Regions from separate parts of the Homo sapiens genome. Here all the other regions are linked to region 3. The links come from fine-mapping of genetic effects on gene expression. A gene starts in region 3. Each other region holds a variant in brackets. All regions are shown on one strand. Distances are from middle to middle. Region 1 has its middle 14 kb from the start of EGILA. Region 2 overlaps LOC124903282 (a long non-coding RNA gene). Region 3 holds the start of RNASE6 (ribonuclease A family member 6).

The links.
Region 1: its variant is fine-mapped to the expression of RNASE6 in whole blood (TOPMed, PIP above 0.99).
Region 2: its variant is fine-mapped to the expression of RNASE6 in whole blood (TOPMed, PIP above 0.99). The same link has a PIP of 0.9 or more in blood mononuclear cells and monocytes.

The regions. Positions count from the first base shown.
Region 1 is chr14:20,716,589-20,724,380 of GRCh38, forward strand. It overlaps the pseudogene RANBP20P. Among named protein-coding and RNA genes, the nearest start is that of EGILA, 14 kb to the left of the region's middle. The variant C/T (reference allele first, on the strand shown) is at 4,982.
Region 2 is chr14:20,704,509-20,715,060 of GRCh38, forward strand. It overlaps LOC124903282 (a long non-coding RNA gene), which reads right to left. Exons shown (of 2, transcript XR_007064061.1): 1 at 8,573-10,552; 2 at 5,285-7,210. EGILA (EGFR interacting lncRNA) reads right to left here and starts at 2,433. Exons shown (of 4, transcript NR_174964.1): 1 at 2,239-2,433. The variant T/C (reference allele first, on the strand shown) is at 6,346.
Region 3 is chr14:20,775,790-20,786,341 of GRCh38, forward strand. It overlaps RNASE6 (ribonuclease A family member 6), which reads left to right and starts at 5,479. Exons shown (of 2, transcript NM_005615.5): 1 at 5,479-5,549; 2 at 5,906-6,678. The coding sequence starts at 5,911. The coding sequence ends at 6,363. The region is part of intron 1 of LOC107984671 (a long non-coding RNA gene); the gene reads right to left. RefSeq lists an enhancer at 6,554-6,623.

The DNA of each region.
Region 1 (7,792 bases), 61 kb before region 3:
CATCCCTGGTGTAATTAATAAACCACTGCTAATTATAATAGACGTAATTTATCCAATCTATGTTTTTATTAATTGTCACCCACAAAATCCTGCAGCTATTTAATCTTGACTCAAATCCTGCAGCTATTTAATCTTGATCTTTAAATTTATCTGGTACTCCTCATGGGACTCCAATTGCATCTAAATAAATGTGGGAGTTGAAAGACCCATAAGGAGCTTCCCTTGTTTTATGATGTTGTATTTTTCCTCTCTCTGGTTGATGAAATGCTAGGGTGGAAGGGATAGCCAATTAAACTAGAGCACAAGTGCTGCTCCAGTTACTTGGCAGAGAGTCCAGTAAAGGTCCACCACAATACCACCATACATATGCTTGGGGATGAACAAGGGCTGACTGATTGGTAAGCTCTTGGAAAGTCTTAAGCTCACTGCATCTTTTTAGGTCTCCAAGGAATGCTAAGTTTCCTCCCTGTAGTGAGAGATATGAAGTGAACTTAGCGTCAGGGGACAGAAGCTGAGTGGACCTTGGGGGCTGACCTGCAGGGTATTGAACCTCAGGATATAGCAGAGAGAGCTTGACACGACTTTTTACCCCAGGCTGTGTAATCCTGGAAAAAAGTAACCATACAGCCCATGCCTAGTAGACTAAAGGACTATCCTAATGGAAAGGGGACAATCTGGGCTTCTGGTCTGCCGTGCGCACAAGCATAACAAATGCTTTTGTTTAAAGTGTGGATGGAATGTTTGATCCACTCCAACCAGGCATTAGCATCTTGATATTCTGTCTCAATTGCCAAAGTTTGTTTTAGGTCTTTAACTTCTATAATAACTACCTTGGTCTTGTCATTAGATGGAGGAGAACAACAGTTTTGTTGTGAGAGCTTCTGGAAGAAGGCTTAAGGGAAGGTGTAGGCGGCAGAGGATCAATGAATTGTGTTTCAAAGGATCTGATAGGGTCTGTTCCTGAAACCTCAGCCCCCACACCATAAAACCGGCTTAAAGAAGGGAACCGGCTTAGAGAAGGGGAAGAGCTTTGAGGGTTTGAGATAATAACCTGTATTGGATTGCACGGTTCAGCTGACAGCTAGGTGAAGCTGTTCCTTTAGTAAAGTGAATATATGACTTTAGGAAATTACAACCACTGGTTGGGGCAGCTCATCCTTGCTCTTTAGTGGTCCACAGAATGTTGGACCAACTGTGGCATAAAAGCTCTGTCTTGCAGGAGCAAGACTCCCAGCTGATACTGGGGTCTTTATTGAAATCTCTCCAGACTAAATGATCCCCATTCACTAATGTCCAGTCTGAGGAGAGCCGGGAAGGACAGAGGTACTTTTCTGAATTGGAGAGCTGTCTTTAACTTGACAAGTCTCCACAAGGTATAACAAGGCAAGCATCAAATGTAATAGTTTGAGGTGAAATTGACTTTGTTACATTAATAATGAGGTGGTCAGCAATAGAATGAGGAAAGAAGAAGGAGTAATAAGAGAGTTAAATTTTTCTTAGCTTGGCTCACGCCTGTAATCCCAGCACTTTGGGAGGTCGAGACAGGTGGATCGTTTGAGGTCAGGAGTTCAAGACCAGCCTGGCCAACATGGTGAAACCCCATCTCTACTAAAAGTACAAAAATTATACAGGCGTAGTGGTACACGCCTGTAATCCCAGCTACTCGGAAGGCTGAGGCGGGAGAATTGCTCGAACCCGGGAGGTGGAGGTTGCAGTGAGTGAAGATCGCACCACTGCACTCCAGCCTGGGCAACAGAGCAAGACTCTGTCTCAAAAAAAAAAAAAATTTCTTAGCTTTAGTTTGGTAGGGTTTTCCCCTGGGACTATGGCCCACGACTCTGGAGGGGGCGGCACTTTCTTGACTTGGGTGTGATAGGTCCATCCTTTTTCTGCTGTCTGGACTGCGCTTTCAGTAGTTAGGAGCACTAGATAAGGTCCTTCCCAGGCCAGTTCCAGCTTTTCCTCCTTCTAGTTTTTGATGAGGACTTGATCCCCGGGCTGATTTCGATGTACTGGGAACTCCAGGGATGGTGCCTGTGCTAAAAGACCTTTAGTTCTAAGGGAAGAGAAAGTGGAAGATAAACCAAGTATATAATGTCTGAGAAACTGATCTTTTGTTTCGAAGGTGGAAATGTCAGCAGTGGAGTGTAAATAGGGCAACCCATATAGCATCTCATATGGGGATAGGCCAACATCTTTTTGAGGGGTGGTTCAGATTCCTAGCAAGGCAATGGGAAGGCATTTAGTCCATGGCAACTGAGTCTTTAAGACTAATTTGGTTAAGTGACTCTTCACGGTTTGATTTATTCTTTCTACTCTTCCCGATGAAGGTGGGTGCCAAGGAGTATGGTATTCCCACGTTATGTCTAGTGCTTGGGCTAATTTCTTAATGATATGTGCAGTGAAATGAGTTCCATTATTTGAATTAATATTTTCAATTTATTTGCCCAGATCCATTGGAGGAACCACTATCTATGACCGCTATAGTCTTATGAAATGTATTTCTGAAGTAATAAGACTTGAAAGCCAAAATTACTCCTTGATCCATGGGCTGCAGAACTGCAGAACGGATGTTGTGTGAGCAGGCATGGAAACTATGGAAATTAATATCTTTGAACATCTCCATCAGAGGCCTTAGGTAACCAAGTGCATTGCCAATCAGCAGTAGTATTTTGAAAGGAATCTTTTTTTTCTGAGCAGGTCTCAATAATGAGCTTAAAATATTCAGTAAACCATGATGTAAACAGATGTGCTGTCAATCAGGCTTTGTTGTTCCATTTATAGAGACAGGCAAAGTAGATTCAGCATAATTCCTAAGGGCCCTAGGATTTTCAAATGATACATGAGCACTGGCTTCAACCTGAAGTCTCCAGTGGCAGGTGCCCCCTGACAAGAGAGTTGGCCTGCCCTCTGAAGCTCTGAAACCAGGCACTGACTCCTCCTCTCTAGCTATGGGAGTCCCAGATGGCACCTTCTTCCACTATAAAGCTGTCTCATCTACACTGAAAATCTGTTGTTTAGTGTGGCCACCTTCATCAATGATCTTATCTAGAGCTTCTGGAGAACTTGCTGCAGCTTCTCCTCAGGACTTGCTGCTTCATCCTGCACTTTTATGTTATGGAGATGGCTTCTTTCCTTAAACCTCACGAACCAACCTGTGTTGGCTTACAACTTTTCTTCTGTAGCTTCCTCACCTCTCTCAGCTTTCAGAGAATTGAAGGGCCTGATCTGGTTTTGACTTTGGCATAAGAGAATGTTGTGGCTGGTTTGGTCTATCCGAACCACTGAAATTTTCCCCGTGTCAACAACAATAAGGCTGTTCTGCTTTCTTATCACTTGTGTGTTCACTAGAGCAGAACTTTTAATCTCCTTCAAGAACTTTTCCTTTGCATTCGCAACTTGACTAACTGGCTCAACAGCATTTGGCCTATCCTAGCTTTTGACACGCCTTCCTCACTAAGCTTAATCATTTCTAGATTTTTAAAGTAAGAGACATGTGACTCTTCCTTTCACTTGAACACATAGAGGTCATTGTAGGGTTACTAAATGGCTCAGGGAATAGGGAGTCCTAAAGACAGGAAGGTGGGGAAGCCGCCAATCAGTGGAGCAGTCAGAACACACACATTTATCAATCAAGTTTGCCATCTTCAGTTTGTGGCACCCCAAAATAATTACAATAGTAACATCAAAGATCACTAACCACAAATTACTGTCAGATATAGTCATAGAAGAAGTTTGAAATATTCTAATAATTACCAAAATGTGACACATGGAAGCACTAAATGCTGTTGAAAAAATGGCGCTGACAGATTTGCTCAATGCAGGGTTGCCATAAGCCTTCAACTTGTAAAAAACACAGTATCTACGAAGTGCTATAAAGGGAAACACAACAAAACGAGGTGTGCCTGCACAACCAATGCCCAACTGTGTGTACCGCCTGAAGGAAAATGTTTCAAAGGTATCACAACTTTTTAGTCTGGAAATCTGAACAATATTTTGGTTTTTCACAGTGAGCATGTGGAACTTATATAACCAAAAAAGTAAAGTTGTATTTGAATGCATGTGGGCTACAAGTAAAAAGGAAGATGAAATAACAGTTTTATAAAGCGGAAAGATTTATGGGTCTAACTCTGTGTCATATTTAGATTTTCTAATAAATGGGTATAGGAACAGAAGGAGAGACAGAGTTAGATAAAAGGTGTAGACGGTAGGCTTTGCTGCTTCGAGAACTTGGTGCTGATTAGAGGTGTGATTGCATTCATGGTAATAGGGATGAGTGTCACGAACTGCTGTGTGTTCTGCTGGTGAGCTTCACTGCAATACTGCACTAACCAGTGAGTGTAAGCCTGCAGCACAGCCAGGGACTGAGCACGTACATCAATGAGGTCAGGTTTCAATACTGATGGCACATCAGTTTCAATGTTGCACAATTTTTTTTTTTCTTTTTTGAGACGGAGTCTTGCTCTCTTGCCCAGGCTGGAGTGCAGTGGCACGTTCTCAGCTCACTGCAACCTCTCCCTCCCTGGTTGAAGTGATTCTCCTGCCTCAGCCTCCCGAATAGCTGGGACTACAGGCACGTGCCACCGTGCCCACCTAATTTTTTGTGTTTTTAGTAGAGACAGGGTTTCACCATGTTATCCAGGATGGTCTCAGTCTCCTGACCTTGTGATCCACACACCTCGGCCTCCCAAAGTGCTGGGATTACAGGCGTGAGCCACCGCACCTGGCTCAATGTTGTACAACTTTATCTGAGATCCATACAGAGTGACTTTGACCAAACTCTCCACAACTGTGAGGGCATCATTGAACCATGCAGCAAACACATCCCCAATAAAGTACCCGGCCAGGTGGCCCATGGCCTGCAGCAGGGAGCTCAAGTCTCTCAGGGAGCAGTGCAGCCACCAGCAGTCGTTCTCTGCCATGATGTTCAACCTGTGTCCTGACCCTGATGTAACTATAACTTGCTGTAATCCCAAATAAA[C/T]TTCTAAATTGCCCTGAAGAACTGGGAACAGTGTGGACAACGTGTGCGTGGGCAGGAGCTCCATCACTTTGACCGCCACCTCCAAGCTCTGCCGTAAGTACCGCTGTCACTCCATCTGCTGATCGTCATCCAGAGTCTCGTCATCCAACTCCTCCAGCTGGCCTGGTTGTATCTGAACTGGATTTGATTCAACACCTCTGTGGGGAGGAGCACCAGGGCATCTTCGTACCTGTTGAGAACTGCTTCCTTGTCTTCAAGATGACTTTTAATTTTATTTGTCAGATAGTCCAAAAAGAGTGTCCAGTATCCAAACAAGAGAATTAACCTTCATGAGTAGGCTGATGAAATGTGTACTTGAACAAAAGTGTCAAAAACTCCACCACAGAGAACTGGGAGTAAGACTCGATTCTTCTTAGGTGAACACTCACAAAGAGCCAAAGAAAGTCAGTAAACTTCTCAATAAAGCTCTCATCGAGCTCTTCTAGCCTGCTCTTCACTGTGTGGGCATTGTTATCCTTGGTGATCTTCTGCAGGAGGTAGAAAGTCTGCTGGAACATAAGCAGTAAATACTCCTCGAACTCCATCGGCACACAGCTCTTGGAAATGAGTTCACTGATGCAGGGCATGGCCAGGACCCCCGGCCGGCTCCGCTCCTGAACCGAGACACAGTTCTGGCTGCTGCCGTTAACTGACGCCATCTTTCTGGCACGGATGTCACAGCCAAATCACGCAAAGTGGAAGGTGGTGGTAAGGAGGGATGGGGTGATGCCGGCAGACAGAGGAATACAACTGAAGAGATGGGCTAGGCACTCCAAGGCAAGGGAACAGATATACTCACTCACCACATCAAGGATGGGAATTGGCTGATTCAACAGTTTGGCTGAACTAGGACTCTGCCACAGGTTACTCAGTAAGTCACCACTTTCTCCTGTCGGGGAGGGTGGTGGAGTGGCAGCAGTAACACTGTGTTTGTCCCAGACAGTCCCCAAGATAGCGGTCAGCAGCCCAAGCACTGTCTGCACCTGGTCCAGTGGCAGCTTCTGCAACTCCTCCTTCCAAGCCACACTGAGGTCCTCGTGGGGACAAGCCAGCTCCTCTGAAGTTGTCTTCAACATGATCGGCCCAAGGGGGGTTGTCACAGGGGATTGGTTCAACTGCAAAATGTTAGTAAAAAAGTCATGGTAGAACATGGGCCGATCCTGACGTCCAATATCAACAATAACTTTGCAGAACTTGCTCTGGATAAAGTAAGGTAAGGTTTTATGGTGAGCCAAAAGGAGTTTGGGCAGTCAGCTGTGGATTTCCATCTCATCCTGAGATGGGACCCCAAGCCACATTTTATTGATCAGATTCTCAAAAACTGTTAAACTGTACATCATTACATAGCCATTCCTAGTGCTGGAGAGAAAGTACAGGAAGAATCTCCAGGCTCCTATTTGCTGGGCAATGTTATTAAGAAGCTCCTCTATCTCACGTTTTCTTTCATTGGTCGTACCATCGTGAAAAAGTTCTGTCATCAGCCTTTCCAATGCTCTGAGAGGGGCTTCTTCAGATGCCATGCTGGCCGGGGAGGGGGCGGCTCAGATGAGCTGGTTCTTGGGCTTTGGACACATCCTACTCGCCCAGTTCAGGTCATGGTCCCGGCAGACTAGGGAAGTCCCCTACCCATGCAAAGATAACCCCTTCCCCCCCGGGCCCCGAGGGGATCCTCTAAAAAGGGCAGGGCTGCCTGGGTCGCCTCATCGGGGGCCCCTGAGACAAGTCATCTAGACCCACCGGCCCCTCCACAAGGAAACTGAAAAAGTAGGAAATGGGGCTCGATTGCTGGCGAGGAGGGCAGCAGCTCGGGACCCCCGCCCGGCCCGAACCCCGCGCGGGGGAGGCTGCGGGCGCAGGCGGGGGCTCCCCGGCCTCCGCGGGCAGAGGTGGCGGCGGGCTCGGCCCGGAGGCTGAAGGGGCGGAGGCTGACGGGGCCTTGGCTGCGCTGCCGGGGCAGCCGGCTCAGGGGAGAGGCCCAGGGGCCCGCGCTGTCCTCGCCGCCTCAGCCCACACGGCTGCCGCCGCCGCCCCCTAGAGCATCCCTGAGCGCGCCCGCCCTGGAGCCGCTCGCTCGTACCGCACGGCCGCCCCCGACCACAGCATTTTAAAATCTGCTACTGTAAACCACTGGTGGCTGTATGGGATCCTACTGATAATAGTATTAGGATTGGGAACAACAGAGTGTGTAGCTTGGAGTATCTGATTAATAGCTCTAAGGTCTTGCCCTAACCGGTATGAGCCATCTGCCTTTTTACAGGCAGTACTGGAGTGTTATAGGAAGACATGCAGGGTTCAAGAAGCCCATCACGGACAAGACCTTCAATCAGAGGTTTCAAATTTACCCTGGCTTTTGAAGGAATAGGGTATTGCTTTCGCTTTACTACTTCCCCAGGGGTGTTTAATTTAAGATGAATCAGAGGAATCTGTAACTTTCAATTCCCGTCTTTTGACCATACCTCGGGATGAATGTGTTCTTTGTCTGTGGTGGTGAGCAAGTTTAGGGAGGGGAGGAATTTTCCAAGACTGATCTGGAGACCTAAGCCTAATTTTAGCGTTAAATCTCTTTCTAATAGATTTGTCCCTGTTTCCAGAATTAACATAAATTTGATACTAGCTGATTGTTTTTTATATTTCACTTCTGTCTCCTCTAAGATTTTTTTTTTCTCTCTACCTTTGAGTCTCCTGGCTTTACTCTTTCATACCCTTTATATTGCCTGGAGAGTGGGTTCTTTATAGGTTCTGGCCCCCTGGGTACTTTGTTGTATGGTGGAC
Region 2 (10,552 bases), 71 kb before region 3:
AGGCCCGTGACCTGCTGCCTTTCTATCAAAACAACTTGACCTCCCAATTCTGGGGTGGCCCTCATGTGTGCATGCAGCAGCAGCCACAGCTTTAATACTTCTGGAAGCCCTCAAAATTACAAGCTATGCTCCACTTACTCTCTACTGTTCCTGTAACTTTCCAAATCTATTCTCCTCCTCACGCTTGACACGTATACTTTCTGTGCCCCAGCTCCTTCAACTGTACTCACTATTTGTTGAGTCTCCCACAATTACCATTGTTCCTAGTCCAGACTTCAATCCAGCCTCTCATCTTATTCCTGATACTGCATCTGAGCCCCATGACTGTATCCCTCTAATCCACGTGGCATTCTCCCCTTTTCCCCATATTTTCCTCTTTCCTGTTCCCTACCCAGACCACACTTGGTTTATTGATGGTAGTTCTTCCAGGTCCAATCGCCAATCACTGGCAAAGGCAGGCTATGCTATAGTATCTTCCACATCTATCATTGAGGCTACAGGCCTGCCCCCTTCTGCTACCTCTCAACAAGCTGAAATCATTGCCTTAACTCGAGCCCTCATTCTTGCAAAGGAACTACGTGTCAATATCTATACCAATTCCAGGTATGCCTTCCACATCCTTCACCACCATGCTGTTATATGGGCAGAAAGAAGTTTCCTCACTACACAAGGGTCCTCCATCATTAATGCCTCCTTAATAAAACCTCTTCTTAAAGCTGCTCTACTTCCAAGAAAACTGAGGCCATTCACTGTAAAGGCCAACAAAAGGCATCAGATCCCATCACTCAGGGCAATGCTTATGCTAATAAGGTAGCTAAACAAGCAGCTGGCGTTTCAACTTCTGTCCCTCATGGCCAGTTTTTCTCTTTCTCATCTTTTCACTTTACATTTCCAGTTTCGCCTTACACAAGGTCTCTTCTTCCCCTGTGGCTCCTCCCCTACATGTGTCTACCTGTTAATTAGACAGGCACATGCACACTAGTTTTCCTTACCCCCAAAAATCAACTTGCAAATGGGACCCAAGAGCTTCCTGTTCCCCTCATGACACCAACACTTCACTACTATTTTGTTTTGTTTTTCTTATTATTAATATAAGAAGACAGGAATATGCCCTTGACTTACTCACTGCTGAAAAAGGGGGACTCTGTATATTTTTAAATGAAGAGTGTTGTTTCTACCAAAATCACTCTGGCCTAGTATATGACAACATAAAAAAAACTCAAGGATAGCGCCCAAAAACTCACCAACCAAGCAAATAATTATGCTGAACCCCCTTAGGCACTCTCTAATTGGATGTCCTGAGCCCTCCCAATTTTTAGTCCTTTAATACATGCTTTTCTCCTTCTCTTATTTAGACCTTGTGTCTTCTGATCAGTTTCTCAATTCATACAAAACTGCATTCAGGCCATCATCAATCATTCTGTATGACAAATGCTCCTTCTAACAACCCCACAATATCACCCTTGATGCCCAAATCTTTCTTCAGTTTAATCTCTCCCACCCTAGGTTCCCATGCTGCCCCTAATCCCACTTGAAGCAGCCCTGAGAAACATTGCCCATTATCTCTCCATACCACCCCCCAAAATTTTTGCCGCTCCAACACCTCACCACTATTTTGTTTTGTTTTTCTTATTAATATAAGAAGACAGGAAATGTCAGACCTCTGAGCCCAAGCCTGCAAGTATACATCCAGATGGCCTGAAGCAACTGAAGAACCACAAAAGAAGTGAAAATAGCCAGTTCCTGCCTTAACTGATGACATTCCACCATTGTGATTTGTTCCTGCCCCACCTTAACTGATCAATTAACCTTGTGACATTCCTTCTCCTAGACAATGAGTCTCAGAACCTCCCCACTGAGCACCTTGTAACCCCTGCCCCTGCCTGCAAGAGAATAACCCACTTTGACTGTAATTTTCCACTACCTACCCAAATCTTATAAAACTGCCCCACCCCATCTCCCTTTGCTGACTCCTTTTTCGGACTCAGTCTGCCTGCACCCAGGTGATTAAAAAGCTTTATAGCTCACACAAAGCCTGTTTGGTGGTCTCTTCACATGGACGCACATGACAGGAGCAGAGATATATGAAGATGCTAGCTGCTTAAGAAGGGAAGTGTGAGTGTGTGTGTGTGTGTGTGTGTGTGTGTGTGTGCACATGTTTAAGGGCAAAACTGACAAAACTGAAAACATTTGAATTACAGCAGATACAGAAAGAAATCTTACCTGAACTTCTCTCACCTGACTAAAGCAGAGCCTCCCAGAAATGCCCCCACCATTATCTCCCTCCGGAGGGGTCCTCATGTAATGGTAATAGGTCTTTTGCCTGATGTGCACAGCATGTCAATATGCCAAGACACTGGGTTGCAGCAGAGAAAGAGGTTTAATTGCAGGGCTGCTGAACCAAAAGATGGAAGGAAACCTCAAATCCATTTCCTCAAAGAGTTTGAGGCTGTTGTTTTTAAGGATTTGGAGTAGGTGGAAATAAGAGATCACTAATTGGTTGAAGAATGCAGAGTGAAGTCATGGGACAGAGAGATGAAAAAACAGTATTCTCATGCTGATCAGTTCATCAGTTGGGCTCTTTAAAGTTGGTGGTGTCAGCTGTTCTGCCGGAATTCAGGATCTGCATAAACAATTCTTAAACAAAAGCCTTATGATTCTAATGTCAAAGATCTTATCTATGGGAACAATGAGAATGCAAATTATCAGTAGCTAGTGTTCGTGAGTTTTGGTTACAAGGAAGTGGGTCAAAGTGTAGCCTGATTAACACTTACTCATAATTATATTTTTGTCCAGGATTCTTGTTAACCGTGTGAGGATTACTTCACCCAGACAGGAGATATTCCAAGAAAATTGTGTAAAACTTTATCCAAAGCTTCTATTTGTCTTTCCCAAAAGTCATTTGTTTTCCTATAGAAGTCATTTCTCCCTCCTTCTTTTCCCCTATGAGTTGATAACTAAACTTCTGTCTCTAGCTCTTCATCAAGCCTCTTCATCTGAATGCTTCCACAAGTTATGAATACAACTTGTTTTCTTTCCCCCTGCTAACCTGTCTATAGTTAATTCACAGGCTCCCACCCACTGAACCAAAGTTGGTAGAGGGAAAGTTTTCCCTCCTAATAGCATGTCTGTGTATATTTAGAGTGAGAAAGAAGGATGAAGAGATAATTCGTCTTTGTCACCATCCAGGTAGTCATGGGAGTTGGGACCTGTGGTATAATAAAAAATAAATTTGAACTTAGTTCCTGGTTCCTGCCACAGACCTTCTAAAATGCTTGGAATTTCCTGAGTGATAGTGTAACCAAACTAAGGGTCAGCTGATCACTGCTCACTGCTCAAAAGCAAGACTTGCAAGACAAGAGTTGGTGCAGGAAAAGCAGGTTTATTCAAGAGCTAGCAACCTGAGGAGATGGTGGACTAGCGCCTCAAAGACTATTTCAAAATTTTAGGCTAGCTAAAGGGATTTTAAGAAGTAGGAGGCATGGAAACTATGAGCAGGAGTGGTGCAGGGTGCAGGTTTGCATGTCTTACTCTGATGGCTATCTTCAGTAACGGATCACCTGGAGGTCTGGCTGGCATCACCATGACTGCAACTAGCTTATGGATTAACCCCCCTCAGTGATTTTTCTGAGAATGTAGGATTCCACAATCTCAAATTCATGCCCGGTTTATTTCAAGATTAGCCCCTGGGTTTCTTAAGCAAGGATACGGCTAGATACTGAATAAATCAAAGGGTGAGGCTATTCATTATTGAAGCAGGCTGATTATTCCAGCTACAAACTCCCCACTGCCAATTCCTGTTTCATTTCTATGGGAGATCAGGTGTCAATTTCTTTCTAGCTACTTCCTGCTGAATGAGGGCATCACTAGGGAGCTGAAGAATGGAATTTATTTACCTGGAGTTGGAAGTATTCATGCATTCCTTGACTTATGGAAGTGATTTTTTACAGCATCATTGACCTGGGAGTTAGGAGCCTTTCCAATTAAGGAAAACACAATCTTGCAATATCACACATATGGTGCAACAAGAGTATAACCCATAGAGAATATACCTATTCCTATAATCATAGCTGGAACTACTAGCAGTTTTTTCCACCAAGTAGGTCCGTATCCAAACCATGAAGATAACCACTGGTTTAGGAACATTGTGGGGTCAGACATAGCATTGATTTGTCTGTGCACGTCTTGAAGGGCTAAGGAGATGTTTCGCAAATTACCTAGGATATACACAAAACATTTAGTTTCAATTATGGGTCAAGGTCCCTCCCAGCAGCTGTGAGTACATCAAGGGCCATGTGGTTTTGCAAGACTACTTTTCCCATCATAGTCATTTCAGAGGTTACTAATGAGATGCCCTTAAATGTGTCTTTCAGCACTTGCTATAATTTGTAAGTGCCTCAATATGCCAGATGATGCTTTCTAAGCCTGCTTGGGGGAAAACAAGGGACAGGAGATGGTCGTAGGAAGGGAAAACCGGCCTGGTCCATTGGTGTAACACATCTGGAAAGTGTGCAGGCTGCCTGGTGGTTTTTGTTAATCAGCCCCGGACCTATGGGGGTCCTAACGTGCACTGCCCTATCCATCCATCAGGTAGACATGGCCGAAGATTAGTTTCACATAACTATTGAGTTCCACTGGGGACCAGCCACCAAATTTTGGGTCTGTGTCCAATCAGTGGTAAACAGGTTTGTCTAATATAGCACTAAAGAATGTTCATATTGATGTAGAGGCATCCTATCCACATTTTTAGTAACATTCGGCCAATGATTCTAAGAGTGATTCCTTTGTTCCCAACATGAAGTGGCAATTTGGGTTAAGTGACTAATAGTGGAGATCATCCAGAGGTAATCGTCCCAAATTTGATAAAAACTCACCTACCGTGTAATGGTTATTAGTAGCCAAAATCTTGGGGGCCATCTAGGAAAACTCCTTTAAGAGAGGGATTGCATACTCAGAGGTCCTTTGGATAGTCCGGTTATAATGAAGAGTTTTCCAGGATCTGGATTCTGAAGCGTTATATTAATGCCAGGCCATTTTTAAAAAATATTACCTTAAGTTACCAAGGTCCTGATTTTCCCATGAACAGTTTTTCATATACGTTTGTAAATGTATCTAATCAGTCCCCTGCAGGGGTGATACTCACTAAAGTAGCCCAGAAGTGCTAGAGATGGGTAGCAATCCACATACCCAGCAAGCATCTTAGTGTAGACTATCTGCATAATGTTATGCCCACTGTAGAAATAGACTAGTTTTAGCAGATGTCAAAAAAGTTTACTCATTATGATAAAGAATAACAGAAATTTAATCCTATAGTACAAAAAGATTTTTCTTAAGCAGTAGCTTCAGTTCTCCAGTTGGCTCACAAGTCCAACCAGGTTGATTGTCTGCTGTGTCAGGTTGGGGAGGGGCGATTTTTACCGAAATGTGATGTATGCGTGGTTTGACTCCAGCCAGCTTAACAGATGAATGAGTAGTTAATAAAACATCATAATGACCTGTCCACTTTTTGGCTGGCTGTTGTTGGTCCAGTCCTTGTTTTTACCAAGATTTTAGCGGCACTTTATCCTTGGATGAAAAGGGTGAAGGGGCTTTTTTGTAAGACACATAAAACTGGAAAGAACAAAAAGAACAAACTTGTGCAGGGTTAGTGATTTATGTCTTAGTTGTTGTACATATTGTTTAATTCTTGATTAATTTATTAAGTCCAAGGGTGGGGTCCCTGGCCAAGAACTTCAGAAGGGTCTCCCACACACAATTTCAAAAAGGCTTAATTTAAGCCCACTTCAGGGTGCTACCCCAATCCATAGCAGGGCAATAGGTAAAACCCTTTACCATTTTAAATCTGTTTCCCGATAGAGTTTTGCCAGGGGTTTTTTTTGGTTTTTTTGTTTGTTTGTTTTGTTTTGTTTTTGTTTTTGTTTTTGTTTTTTAGCATGTGGATCATCTTTTCAGTCTTTCCAGTTGATTGTGGCCTCCAACAAGAGTGTCATTTCCATTTGATCTGTAATGCTTGGCTTATCCTTTGTGTGATCTCAGAAATTAAAGAAGGATTATTGTTGCTTGGTATGGAGTAAGGAAGTCCAAATCGAGGAATGATTTCTTTTAGCAGAGCCTTAGCTACTTCTGCAGCTTTCTCAGACTTGTTCGGATAGGCTTCAATCTCTTGCTCGGGTAAGCTTCAACCTTTCCAGAAAATGTGTCTACAAACACTAGTAGGTACTTATAAATCCCAGTGTTTTTGGCATCTGGGTGAAATCAACCTGCCAGTCCTCGAATGGTCATATTCCTTTGTATTGTATCCTCCTCTGGGAAGAGTTGCATGCAGTTCTTGAATCATTTGGGGTA[T/C]ATAGATAACATGCTTGTATAATCTTTTGAATGATCTTTTGAAGGTGTGGCCCTTTGAGATATGGCTACACCAGGTGAGCCAGTCCATCTCTGCCATAGTGTGTCCCCTCATGCAGGTCTTTCAGGACTGGGTATACCAGGGCCTCAGAGAGTAATATCCCATGAGTGTTAGCTTTCCATGAGGAACAAGGGTCTGTGTTGGTCAATGTCCACTCATGTGTGCATTCTTCATTTCATTCAGTGTAGTGGAGTTTAAATTCTGACAAGTTTAAATGGAGTATTAAGGTCCCAAGTAAATATGTTTCTTGAGTGGCCTGCTTTGCAGCTTTATCAGCCACTTGATTCCCTTTGGTTATTGGGGAGTCATCCTTTTGGTGGCCTTGGCAGTGCATAATAGCAACTTGAGTTGGCAGAACAACTGCCTCTGACAAAGCTAAAATTTCCAGCAGGTGTTTAATGTCTTTATTTCTTGAGGTTAAGAATCCCCTTTCTTTCTGAATGACCCCACGGGCATACACTACCAAGAAGGCATACTTGGAGTAGGTGTAAATGTTTACCCATTTCTCTTGAGACTGTTTTAAGGCCCTGATGAGAGCAATCCATTCAGCTTTTTGTGCTGAAGTACCAGCAGCGGGGACATAGGCTTCTACTACTTTGTCTAGGGTCACTGGAGCATACCTGGCCTGGCGTTGTCCTCCTTCTGTGAAACTGCTTCAGTCAGTGTATAGCTCCCAGTCCGGAGTGGCCATCAGATGATCTGACAGATCTGGTCTGCTGGAATAGACTGCATCAAGAATTTCTAAACAATTATGCTCCAGTTCATAGTTGGACTCAGTGGCTGGGAGCAAGGTGGCAGGATTCAAGACTGTGGTGGTTTGGAGAAAACATTTCTGTTATCTAATAGGCTGGCTTGGTATTTGCCCATATGCCCCGCTATCATCCAGTAACCTCCCTTTTGTTACAATAAGGTTAACACTTGATAAGGCACAAATGCAGTAATGGGCTGTCCTAGGGTGAATTTTTCTGCTTCCTGTAAGATATCACACGTAGCTGCCACGGCCTGAAGACAAGGTGGCCATCCTCTGGTAATCTGCTCCAGTTGTTTGGGAAAGTAGGCTATGGGTTGTGGGGAATTCCCACGTAGTTGAATTAGTATTTCCTGTCCTGTGCCCTGGTTTTCATGGATATAGAGTCTAAATAGCTTTCAAGAATTGGGCAGTCCTAATGCTGGAGCTGACACTATTTTTTTTTTTTTTTTTGATGGTATCAAATGCCTGAAGGCATTCAGCCATCCAGTTTAGGGCTCCTGAATCTAATCCCTTTAGAGCCTTGTAGAGAGGTTTGACTATGAGTCCAAAATTAGGGATTCAGATTCAGCAGAAACCTGCCACACCTAAAACCCCCCACAGTGTCTTCCATTCCCAGGGGCCTTTATTGCTGCTATCACCTGTTTCTGGTTGGACATCAAGCTCTGCTTTCCTTGTTTTTAGTCAGAAGCCAAGATAGGTCACTTCTTGTTTACAAATCTGAGTTTTCTGAGGTGATATGTTACGTCCGTATTATATCAAATAATTTAAGATTAAGATAGTGTTAGATAGGCACCTCTCATAGTCTTGGCTTGCGATTAACAAGTCATCCAAGTATTTTAGCAGAACCCCATCATCTAGTTGAAAATCTCTGAAGCCCTTTGCCAATATTTTGCCAAAGATGGTGGGTGAGTTTTTAAAACCTTAAGAAAATACAGCCTAACAATATTGGAAGGTGTTTTTTGTTTCCAGGTCTTGCCACTCAAAGGTGAACAGCATCTGGTCCCTCTCTTCAATCAGGATGCAAAAAAAAAAAAAAAAAAAAAAGTATCTTTTAAGTCTAATACCGAAAACTACCCATACTGCCCTGGTTTATCAGTTAGTAAGGTGTAAAGGATGGGCATAGTTGGGTGAATGTCTTGAACAATGTCATTAATGGTTCCCAAATCTTGTACAAATCAATATTCATTTGAGTGTGGGTTTTTAACAGTCAGGATAGGGGCATTGTATGGAGATCTGTAAGGACATATTTGTCCATTTTTTAGAAACTTCTGTAATATAGGTTGTATCCCCTCTAAAGCCTCTCTTTTTAGAGGGCACTGTGTTTGGGGAATACCTTAGCCCCTTCATTTATTTCTGTGCACACAGGCTGTGTATTTTCAGCACTACCTGTGGTCCCATCTGCCCTCATGACTACTTACTTGCTCACAGATTGCTGGCAGGAGGCATTCTTTTTCTTCCTCGGGGTGTGTGAGCAGCATCTGCAGCTGCAAAGCTTGCTCTGGCAGGACCTGCAGATGAAGTTGTTGTTTTTCTGGAGAAAAACGTCACATGGCAATTTAGTTTACAAAGCAAATCTCACTCCAGCAAAGGAATTTGGTATTCCAGCATATAGAGGAAACTGTGTCTCAGCTCCAGATCTCTGTGTCCGGCAGTCTCCAGACTCTCCAGGGTCTGGAGAAAGGCTGTTTGCTGCATCTTGCCAGCGACAACCATCACAGGCACTGTTTTCCTAGTACTTTCAGTTTCTTTAGTGTTTCTACCTGAATAAGTCACACCAGTATTGATTAAAAAGTCAATCAATTTGTTCCCCATTGTCAATCGTACCTGAGGTTCCTGTGGGGAAATTACAACCTGCTCCAAAAGATTTGGGCCTCCTTCACTATCTGAGCTACAGTCCTGCTTTACCATCAGCCAGTATGTTTCTTCTCTGTCACTGTGTCTCCCTTCTTCTGGTTTCCCTGTCTTTTCTTTAATTTGGGGCACTCAGATTTCCAATGACCTTCCTCCTTGCAGGGGGCAGACTGATCATTACCTAGAGTTTTGTTCTGGCCACCTCCCTGTGCCTGGTTTTTCCTTTTCGGATATACATTCTTTCCACTAATTCCAAGTATATCATGGCTTGCTTTAGCTTTTTGGCCTTCCTGGCATTATATACTCTGAAGGCAATGTCCAGCAGTTGGGAAAGGTTTATTCCAAATACCCCCTCCAGTTTCTGCAGTTTTCGTTTAATATTGGATGAAAGTCACGTTTACCATTCTCATATTCTCAGGAGCTTCTGGATCATAGTCCATACACTTGTGGTAAACCTGGTAAATGCACTCCAGAAATTCACAGGGGTTCTCATCTGCCTTTGGGAGAACTGCCCTGGCTTTATTTAAGCTCTTTTACATTCTTCTCTTTAACCCTGCCAACACATGCTTTTTATAATGACTGGACAGGGCCATTCCTCCATTGTTGGGGTCCCAAGTAAAATCTGCAAGTGGAGCAGCCATTTCTATTCCTTCCCCATCCTGGGGAGAGGAGCTGACACCTTGGCCTCTCCGGGTCCTGGGCTACATTTGGTAATCCTGGGAGGGCTGGTGCCCCCAGTACCACATGGGAGGGGAAATTTAAGATATTTATGAGGCCCATATCATCAATATCCTCTTCCTTTTGGGTCTTACTATCTGGAAAGAGAAATCTCTTTTTCCCTTTTCTCTACGTCATTCACATAGACCCCTCATGTGCTGAGTCTTTGTTATGTAATAAATGCTTAAACACATGGAATCTCATTTCATTTCCCAGATCTTAGGCAAAATAACGCCAACTGTAATAAGGTGTACTAATGTAAATCACTGTTCAGTAGCCACCATTTTTCAGATTCCAACACATACATAGGCCAAACAGTGTTACAATGAAAAAAAATCATTATCTTTTTTGTTATGAGTTCATAGCTATAAGCTTTCCAATAAGCCAATATACAGCCCAATGGCCACTTAGATGGAATGGAAGTCAAGTTGCCCATTCTCAGGGGAGAGATCAAAAGAACACAAACACACAGATCAACACAGAGTACTCCTGAACCAATTCCTGTAGAAGGAGACTGGGAAGTTAATAAATCTTAGGCTAACTGATACTGCAAAAGACCTGTGTCAGGTCCAAATGGCATAAAGCCCAAATGGCAGAGACAGAGGATTTCTAGCATGCAAACTGGTTTGATTTACCCAGTCTTGAATCCTGTCAACTTCCTCAACTATCATTTTCCTTATACTAATAAAGCATTGCAGGCAGCTGATGCCACAGAGGGGGAAGGAGGGAAAAGATGTTCTTGGCAGCTGCTGGGACAACCCTAGAATCCCAGCTGGGAGGTCAGCTAGCCACGAGCAGCTAATCCTCATGAGAAGTTGTTGCTCTGCCTG
Region 3 (10,552 bases):
ATGGTTATGAGATCCAAGCTAGCCTAACTGAAGTCTCATAGGAAACAAGAATATGTCACCCCAAAATATGCCTCCAGGTTGAAAGTCCTGTCAATTAGCATTTTTGCTGCTCTGCATCCTTACTGGCTTTGATGATGTCAGTTTTCACTGCATTTTAGTCATTCATGTAGGTGTGTAGTATTATCCCATTGTTTTAATTTGCAATTTTCTAATGACAGATTGAAGGGATTCACAGCCCACCAATATGGCAAAACTGCCCTTGCAGAGTTATGGAGTGTTGCAAGCCAGGCTCTAGGCAGAATTGCACATTAATCATAGCATGCTGGTACACTTCAACCCACTTCCCTGTAGCTTCTAATTTCCCAAGTAGCATGCTGACCACCTACTCCCCGATTGTTCCTATAGGTAGAATCTCCAATACTAGAATCATGAAATCTTTTTGCTTAAGAATTGCTTAAGGTGTTTTTCTGATCCTGAATTCCAGTGCAACAGCTAATGCTAACCAGTCTAAAGACCCCTACCAAGGAACTGGCTTGGCACATGAATGCTGAGTTTCTTCATGTCCCTGTCCCATGACTTCACCTCTCACTTCTTGATGAATCAGAAATGCTCACATTTTGGCCCTTGTCCAGACTCCTTAAAAACCCTATCCCCAAACCCAAAACCAAATTGTAGGTTACCTCCCATCTACTCATTTGGCTGCCCTATGAAAATTAAACTCTCTCTTTTTCAATCCCTGTTTTCTTAATATATCCATTTGTTGTGCATCAAGTAACAAATCTGTTATGATGATAGTGGCATGAAAATTATTTTAAACTGAAAATGTCTGAACAGACAGAAGCTGCAGAAAGAAACACTATTTAAACTTAACCAGAGCCTCTTGAAAATTCAGCTGCCATTGATCCCCTTCAAAGGTATTTTCCTGTTTGAAACGAGACAGCCCCTTAGCACTGGGATGTGTAAATTAGCTTCCATAAACCCCCATACAGGGAAACTTCCAGCCAGGAAGAAATCAATCTACCCATTTCTATTAGCATCAGAAAGCTTACTAGAACCTTCCATATTTTCCTTTTGAAGCCCCAACAAAAATCTTTTATTTTTTATTTTATTTTATTTTTGAGACAGACTTTCACTCTTGTTGCCCAGGCTGGAGTGCAGTGGCGCAACCTTGTCTCACTGCAACCTCCGCCTGCCAGGTTCAAGAGATTCTCCTGCCTCGGCCTCCCGAGTAGCTGGGATTACAGGTGCCCACCACCATGCCTGACTAAATTTTGTATTTTTAGTAGAGACGGGGTTTTACCATGTTGGCCAGGATGGTCTCAAACTCCTGACCTCAGGTGATCTGCCCACATTGGCCTCCCAAAGTGCTGGGATTACAGGTGTGAGCCACCATGCCCGGCCAAATCTTTTTTTAAAAAATAGAGATGGGGGTCTTGCTATGCTGTTGGTTTCAAACTCCATGCCTCAAGTGATCCTCCTGCCTCAGTCTCCCAGAATGTTAGGATTACAGGCATGAGCCACTGCACTTGGCCAAAAACACTTTTTTTAAAGTTGATATATAACTTTACCTCTGGCTATTCAGCAAGTTACGCATTATGTAATACTCCTGTGTGCATGTGTAAATAAACTTTGAATTTTCTCCTATTAATCTTTTTCTAATTCACAAGCTCCTTTACCACCACCTTTAAAACCTAAAATGATAGAGGAAAAGTTTTTCTCCAAACAATGTGATGCTGAACATCTTTTCATTGCTCATCTGCCATCTGTATATCTTGTTTGGTGAAGTGTTGGGGTACAGAGAATCATACTACAAACTATGATGCATGGCATTCTGAGCACTTTTGAATTAAAGAAATTAAATTAAAGAATTAAATTTAACTAGAATTAAAGAATTAAAGAAACCAAAACTTCTTAGAAGCTGCCTCAGGACCAAAGATGTTCTAATCTTCTCTCATTCCTCCCCCAGCTCTCAAATGCAGAGAGGAGCTCTCTCTGGAAGTTCCCTTGTCTGGATAAGGAAAACTTCTTCCAAGAAATGCAATTGTCTTAAGACCCCCCTTTCTAAAAATCTCATCAGATAACCAGGAAATATTAGCCACCTGAAAAAAAGAAGAGACTAGAAGTCTCTTCACACCACACTCAGATAGACCTTTCATCTATTCTTCCAAGAGCAGCTCCAAAAGAGTACCTAAGAGACTTTATCTGTATAATAAGGCAACCTTTGTTCATAGTGCAGTTCCACCCTTCACCTTCCCATAACTCGTCACCCTTCCATTCAGCTTCCAAAGAGACTCATTTACAAACTATTGTCTGCTATTTGGGGCCAGTTCCCTAAAAAATATTTAAAACTCCTCAAAATTGCCTACATTTTCCCCATGTTCCTCTCCCCTATGAAGAGAATACATGAATTTCAACTATTTAGTCTTTCTTTGAGTCTCATAATTTGTATGGTTCCCATGATTATGCACAGTAATAAATTTGTATGCCTTTTTCTCCTGTTAATCTGTCTATTGTCAGTTCATTTCAGAAGTTTTGAACCTTCAGAGGGAGAGGAAAAATTGTCTTTGCCCCATACCATTCAGATGTTTTGCCCATTTTTCAACTAGGTTGTTGGTTTTCTTATGGTTGAGGTTTTTTGAGTTCTTTGTATATTTTGGATAATGTTCTTTTATCAGATATATCTTTTGCAAATATCTTCTCTCAGTCTCTGGCTTATCTTTTTATTCTCTTAATAGTATCTGTTGCAGAGCAGAAGTTTTCAATTTTAATGAAGTTCCACTTATCAATATTTTTCTTTCATGGATTGTGCTTTTGGTATTGTATCTAAAAAATCATTGCCAAACTCAAGGCTGCCTAGATTTTCTTCTATGTTATTTTCTAGAATTTTTGTAGTTTTGTATTTTGCATTAGGTCTATGGTCCATTTTGAATTAACATTTGTGCCAGGCGCGGTGGCTCACGCCTGTAATCCCAGCACTTTGGGAGGCCGAGGTGGGCGGATCACCTGAGGTCAGGAGTTCGAGGCCAGCCTCACCAACATGGTGAAACCCTGTCTCTACTAAAAATACAAAATTAGCTGGGTGTAGTGGTGCATGCCTGTAATCCCAACTACTCCGGAGGCTGAGGCAGGAGAATCACTTGAACCTGAGCGGCAGAGGTTGTGGTGAGCTAAGATCATGCCATTGCACTCCAGCCTGGGCAACAAAAGCGAAACTCCATCTCAAAAAAAAATTGTGAAAGATATAAAGTACAGGTCTATGAAAATGTATGAAGTCTAACCTATGAAAAGATTTATTTTTTGCATGTGTACATTCAGTTCTACTACCATTTGTTGAAAAGACTAACTTTTCTCAATTGAAAATTGATCCTTTGTCACAGATTAGTTCACTGTATTTGTGTGGGTCTACCTCTGGGCTTTCTACTTGGTTCCATTGACCTATTTGTCTATTTTTCACCAATAACACACTGTCTTAATTGCTGTAGCTTTATAGTAAGTTTTGAAGTTGGGTCACGTCAGTTTTCTGACTTTGTTCTTCTTTTTCTGCATTGTGTTGACTATTCTGAATCTTTTTTTTTTTTGAGACAGAGTCTCGCTCTGTCACCCAGGCTGGAGTGCAGTGGTGCGATCTCGGCTCACTGCAAGCTCCACCTCCCGGGTTCAAGCGATTCTCGTGCCTCAGCCTCCCAAGTAGCTGGTACTATAGGCGCCCGCCACCAGGCCTGGCTAATTTTTTGTATTTTTAGTAGAAACGGGGTTTCACTGTGTTAGCCAGGATGGTCTTGATCTCTTGACCTCGTGATCAGCCTGCCTCGGCCTCCCAAAGTGCTGGGATTACAGGCGTGAGCCACCGTGTCCAACCTGAATCTTTTACTTTTATATAAACTTCAGAGTCAGTTTGTCACTATCCACAAAATAATGTGCTGGGATATTGATTGAGATTGTGCTGAATCTATAGATCAAGTTGAGAGGAAATGACATCTTAACATATTGAGTATTCCTACTCATGTACATGGAATATCTGTGCTTCCTCAATTTCTTTCATTAGAGTTTTAAATTTTTCCTCATACCAATTTTTACATAATGTATTAGATTTACACCTAAGTATTTCACTTTCTTTGGTGCAATATAAATGGTATTGTGTTTTAAATATCAAATTGCAATTGTTCATTGCTGGTATATAAGAAAGCAACTGACTTTTGTATATTAACCTTGTATCCTGCAACCTTGCTATAAACAGACATTATGTTTATTCTGCAGACATTTGGAGCCATAAAAGCATGGGGCAAGAGTGTTGTACTATTATATCTTGTTCAAAAAAAGACTAATCTGGAAGTAATATGTAGAATGGATTGGAAGGAGAAAAAAACAAGGCAAGGAGTCCATGTGGGAGGCTTTTATGTGAGCCCTCCATAAGACAATGAGTTTCTGAATAAGGGTGTTGCAGTACCAGTGAAAAGGTAAGAACAGATTCAAGAGGCAAATATCCTAAATTCGGCCTTCTTCTTCAGGCTTACAGGTCTTTTCATACACAATTCTGTCTTTGGGAGGCGCTTAACACTCTCTTCACCTAACTTCTAATTATTCCTCAAAATTCAGTTCAGGTGTTGTGCCCTCCAACAATCCTTCCCCTCTACTATCTTCCCGTAGCCTCCTGCAGTGTCCTCCATCACACTGTAAGTGCTATTTATATTAATATAATCTACTTGTCTATATACTTACCTGCCTGTCTCTAATCTCTTTCATTAAATCATGAGCTCCTGGCAGATCACGAGGTCAGGAGATAGAGACCATCCTGGCTAACACAGTGAAACCCCGTCTCTACTAAAAATACAAAAAAATTAGCTGGGCGTGATGGCAGGCACCTGTAGTCCCAGCTACTCGGGAGGCTGAGGCAGGAGAATGGCATGAACCCAGGAGGTGGAGCTTGCAGTGAGCAAAGATCGCACCACTGCACTCCAGCCTGGGCGACAGAGCAAGACTCCGTCTCAAAAAAAAAAAAAAAAAAAACTCATGAGCTCCTGAATTTGTGTAGCCTAGTACCTGGCCCAATAAGTATATGCATAAATGAATAATGTATTCACTTCTGTTGTAGGAACTTACAACATTACCAAGTATGTGGCAGGCATTATATCATATTTATGTGACATATTTTCTCTTAAGAAACAGGAATCATAAAGCTTCAAAAAAAAACACTGAAGCCTCAGATGAGGCAGGAAGCACTCATTCCATATCAGGAAGTGATCAGTTCCTCAAAACTGTGAGTTTTCAGTCATGTTGTTTCTTTAAGTTGGTTTAGCCTTCCTGTATACATGTGATAATGATACTGTTTTAAAGAACAGGTGTGAAAGTCTAAGAGTTTAATCCAGACTCTGCACAAGAAGTTAATCTGCCAAACCCTAGGATTCTCCTTCTGAAAGCTCAGAATATTTCTTCCCCTTCCCTATACACACAGGGCTCGAAGGGTTAGAGAAGAAAGGCAGACAACAGCTTCTGAGCTTTGGACTAATCACAGCCTCTGTTCTCAGCAGGAGCCCCAACACTGAGACCAGGTAAGAAAGAAAGCCTCAGGGCTGGAGCGAGTAGAGCAGTAAAGACGGCTGGGAGGTAGTGGTCAGATAGAGGGTAAATATTTCAGGAGGGAAGAGGGAAGAAACTTTCTGATATGACAGCCATCAAATGCATGAGTACTTGTGAAAGAAAATGGGATATGCCAATCAAAGGAGAGGTCATATTTCTGTTTCCTGGGCTTCAGGTTCTTCATAGAATTGTGAGACTATGTGAGAAAGAAGATTTTAAAGGGAGCTGTAAAATCTTAAAAGGCAAAATAAAAATCTAAATAGTTATGATTAAAAATTTTGCTCTTATTGCTTCTCCTACTATAACTATCTTCTCTCTTTCTACACAGAAAAGATGGTGCTATGCTTTCCTCTTCTTTTACTGCTGCTGGTTCTATGGGGACCAGTGTGTCCACTTCATGCTTGGCCTAAGCGTCTCACCAAGGCTCACTGGTTTGAAATTCAGCATATACAGCCAAGTCCTCTCCAATGCAACAGGGCAATGAGTGGCATCAACAATTATACCCAGCACTGTAAGCATCAAAATACCTTTCTGCATGACTCTTTCCAGAATGTGGCTGCTGTCTGTGATTTGCTCAGCATTGTCTGCAAAAATCGTCGGCACAACTGCCACCAGAGCTCAAAGCCTGTCAACATGACTGACTGCAGACTCACTTCAGGAAAGTATCCCCAGTGCCGCTATAGTGCTGCTGCCCAGTACAAATTCTTCATTGTTGCCTGTGACCCCCCTCAGAAGAGCGATCCCCCCTACAAGTTGGTTCCTGTACACTTAGATAGTATTCTCTAAGGCATCCACTGCATTTCCTTTCATTTGACATAGCTTCTGTTACAATTGCATCCATGTTTTCTTTTCTTTTGTTGATTTTCTTGTTCCCGTAGAAGAAAGAAGAAAGGTGTTTGGAGAATTCGAGTGCCTAGGATGCCAGACCAGAGTTGAGACAAAAAGAAATAAGATTATTTTCTGCTTTGTAGTTCTGTACTTTTCGAGAGAAGGGAATAGGGAAGACAGCAAAGAAAGATTCAGATTTCTAACCCTGCAACTTTTGCCAAGCTTTATTGCCCTGTGTTCACAGCAATAAAACCACTTCCTGCTGCATTCTAATGAGTGTGTGTTTGAGATCCGCTTTCAAAGCATTGTTGACCGGTACTCAGAGGAACACTGTTTTGACTTTAAGTCCCTAGAAAACTTTTGAGGCCTCCCTGGGGCCCCACTTCCTTGCCCACAAGAAAGGACAGCGTTTGGGACTTTGGAGCATTTCTTCAAACTCTGCTCATGACTTTATATATTCCCCTGGAAACCATTGTCTATGCTTAATTGGAGGTAGTACTGATACCTCAAAGACAGTTGATGATAACTCACACATAGATTCTGTCACTGGCAACTGAAGGATCCTATGTCTTTTCTATTTGTTTCCGTTTTTAATCAGATAATGTTTTAAATATAAGGTGATAGTAGTAGTAATAGGGATAATAATCCATTGTAGTAACCTTAGGGTCAATCCTCCATTATTTATTGAAATGGATAAATAGAAAGCATAGATCAAGAAAAAAGCACTAGGCTTGTCGTGGTGGCTCACGCCTGTAATCCCAGCACTTTAGGAGGCTGAGGCAGGTGGATCGTCTGAGGTCAGGAGTTCAAGACCAGCCTGGCCAACATGGTGAAACGCTATCTCTACTAAAGATACAAAAAAAGTAGCTGGGCGTGGTGGCAGTGCCTGTAATCCCAGCTACTCGGGAGGCTGAGGCAGGAGAATCGCTTGAACCCAGGAGGTAGAAGTTGCAGTGAGCAAATATTGTGTCACTGCACTCCAGCCTGGGCAACAGAGTGAGACTCCCATCTCAAAAACAAAAAAAGAAAAAGAGAAAAGCACCAGGAGACCCAATGCAGTGGCTCACACCAGTAATCCCAGCACTTTGGGAGGCCGAGGCAGGCAGACGACTTGAGGCCAAGAGTTTGAGACCAGCCTGGCCAATGTGGTGAAACCCCATCTCTACTAAAAATACAAAAAATTAGCCAGACATGATGGCAGGAGCCTGTAATCCCAGCTAATCAGGAGCCTGAGGCAAGAGAATCGCTTGAACCTGGGAGGCAGAGGCTGTAGTGAGCCGAGATTGCACCACTGCACTCCAGCCTGGGTGACAGAGCGAAACTCCCGTCTCAAAAAAAAAAAAAAAAAAAGGAAAGAAAGAAAGAGAAAAAAGCACTAGGAAACTAAAAACATTCTAGTCCTATGTAAATACTGAAATACCACAGAAGTATTGGGGTTTTGGAACAGAACCTGAACTAAGCCATTTCACAGAAGGAACTTCAGTTTCCTTGTCAACCTCTAGAGTCATTGGGCTAGTGGGCCAGTGTAAATCCCAAGTGCTTTGTACAGTGATGAGTCTTCAAGTAGCAGCCAAAGACAATGAAGTTTTTTTGAAAAGGCTACATATTGTAGTGTCTTCATTACCTGTGCTGCAAATGATTCTTTCCAAGCCAGACTATTAGTTTAATAGATATGCTAACTCAGCTCACCTTCCTTTACGCTACACATTTATGTCATATCTTAGGAACAAAGAATGGAATATGAGGTTTCAGGAGCCTGGATTCCAGGGTGATGACTGATCAAGGGCCCTCCCATTGGGAAGAGATTAGCAGGTCAGGGCAATATGGCACCTAAGAAGGTGGGTACCTTATAGAGGGAATCCTACAGTGGGACTTGAGTGCTCTAACTCAAAGCAGCTTTCAGTTGTATTCAGCTTTAAGCCATGTTGCATTTACATTTTATTGTCTCAGAGTCTTCATGTAAAGTGTGGTGGAATGGCAGGGAGAATCTGTGCTCACGTTTGGTATGAACAAGTATACGAAAGTAGCAGCATCTGAAAGGAAAGGGGTTGAATGGATTTATATGAACATTACCTGGAAATTGCCAGAGATTCTTAAAGGTAATCTAGTAAAACCAAACAACTCAATTGCTCATGCTATTGTTATTTATATAGTAAAGGTATCTCATGGATTGAATACATCTGTGCTGCAAAAATTTTTCAACTGTCAGAAACATTAGGGAACATGAAATGTTACTTAAAATTAGTGAAATAAATTGTGAGGTCTAAAATACTGCAAATATTTTGTAACAAATGGTTAAAAACAAAAATATAATGAGTGCCATCTTTTGAAGAGATTTGCAGCAACAATATCTAATCTTCCCCACCCTCCCATGACAAACCTATCCCCAACAACAATTAGAGTCACTTTTTGTTGCTGATCAAGGAAAAGGCAACAATGAGGGTAACTTTTCAACAATCTATTATGCCCAAACTTTTAGAAGGTATTAGTTCTAAACAAGTGGAATAGACTGGGATGGAATCTCTCATAGATTTATTTTCTTTTCTACATGCAGTTATGTATTGCAGAAGTTCAATACATAATTGCTAAGAAGTTCACTTAGATATATCCCTAGAATATACAGAATGATCCCAAAGCAGGCAAAGCTTAGAAGTGAATTCAGCAGATGTTCTAGCAGCTCTCAACTCTGGCTTCATATTAGATTCACCTGGGAGCTTTTAGAAAAATACCAATGACGGGATCTACTAAATAAATTTTATGAACATTTAATGAACAATTAAATGAATATCTGGGGGTGAGACCTGGGCTCTAATGGATGTTTGTTAAAGATCCCCATGTAATTGTAATGGGCAGCAAATATTGGTAACAACTGTTGATGCAGGGGTAAGCAAACTACATCTGCAGACCTCTGGCCTGCCGCGCCTATTTTATACTGCCTGGAGTAGTGTGGTTTTTACTTTTATTTTTTTTTTTGAGATGGAGTTTGGCTCTGCCGCCCAGGCTGGAGTGCAATGGCTGGATCTCGGCTCACTGCAACCTCCACCTCCTGGATTCAAGCGATTCTCCTGCCTCAGCCGCCTGAGTAGCTGGGATTACCCGCCACCACGCCCAGCTAATTTGTTTGTTTGTTTGTTTGTTTGTTTGTTTGTTTTTTGAGACGGAGTCTCATTCTGTCGCCCAGGTTGGAGTGCAGTGGCGCGATCTCAGTTCACTGCAAGCTCTGCCTGCCGGGTTCACGCCATTCTCCTGCCTCAGCCTCCCGAGTATCTGGGACTACAGGCGCCCGCCACCACGCCCGGCTAATTTTCTGTATTTTTAGTAGAGACGGGGTTTCACCGTGGTCTTGATCTCCTGACTTCGTGATCCACCCGCCTCGGCCTCCCAAAGTGCTGGGATTACAGGCGTGAGCCACCGTGCTTGGCCGATTTTTACTTTTTTAGGGGGAGAAGAAAAAGGAGGAGGAAGAGGAGGGGGGGAAGAACAGGAAGAAGGAAGGAGTAGAGACGTGAGGGAGGGGAAGGAAGGGGAAGAAGAGGAAGAAGAAGGAGAGGAAGTGACACAGACCCTATGTGTTCCACAAAAGTGAAATATTTACTGTCTGGTCCTTTATAGAACAAAGTGTGTTGATTCCTGGTCTTCTAGACTATTCAATGGATCTTGTCCTTTGGCTGTGGCTGAGGCAGGTGGCTGGAATTCAGTAGGAAGGACGACACCTGGCAGGCTGAGAATTTTGAACTGGGGCCTCAGGAAAGTAATGATTTTTTTTTTTTTTTTTTTTTTTTTTTTTTTTTTTGAGACGGAGTCTCGCTCTGTCGCCCAGGCTGGAGTGCAGTGGCGCGATCTGGGCTCACTGCAAGCTCCGCCTCCCGGGTTCCCGCCATTCTCCTGCCTCAGCCTCCCCAGTAGCTGGGACTACAGGCGCCCGCCACCACGCCCGGCTAATTTTTTGTATTTTTAGTAGGGACCGGGTTTCACCATGTTGGCCAGGATCGTCTCGATCTCCTGACCTCGTGATCCGCCCGCCTCGACCTTCCAAAGTGCTGGGATTCCAGGAGTGAGCCACCGCGCCCGACCGTAATGAATTCTTAATATTCCTTTCTGTGCCCTGTTTCAGTCTTTTTCTGCAATGTACTCATTTCCTCTGCTT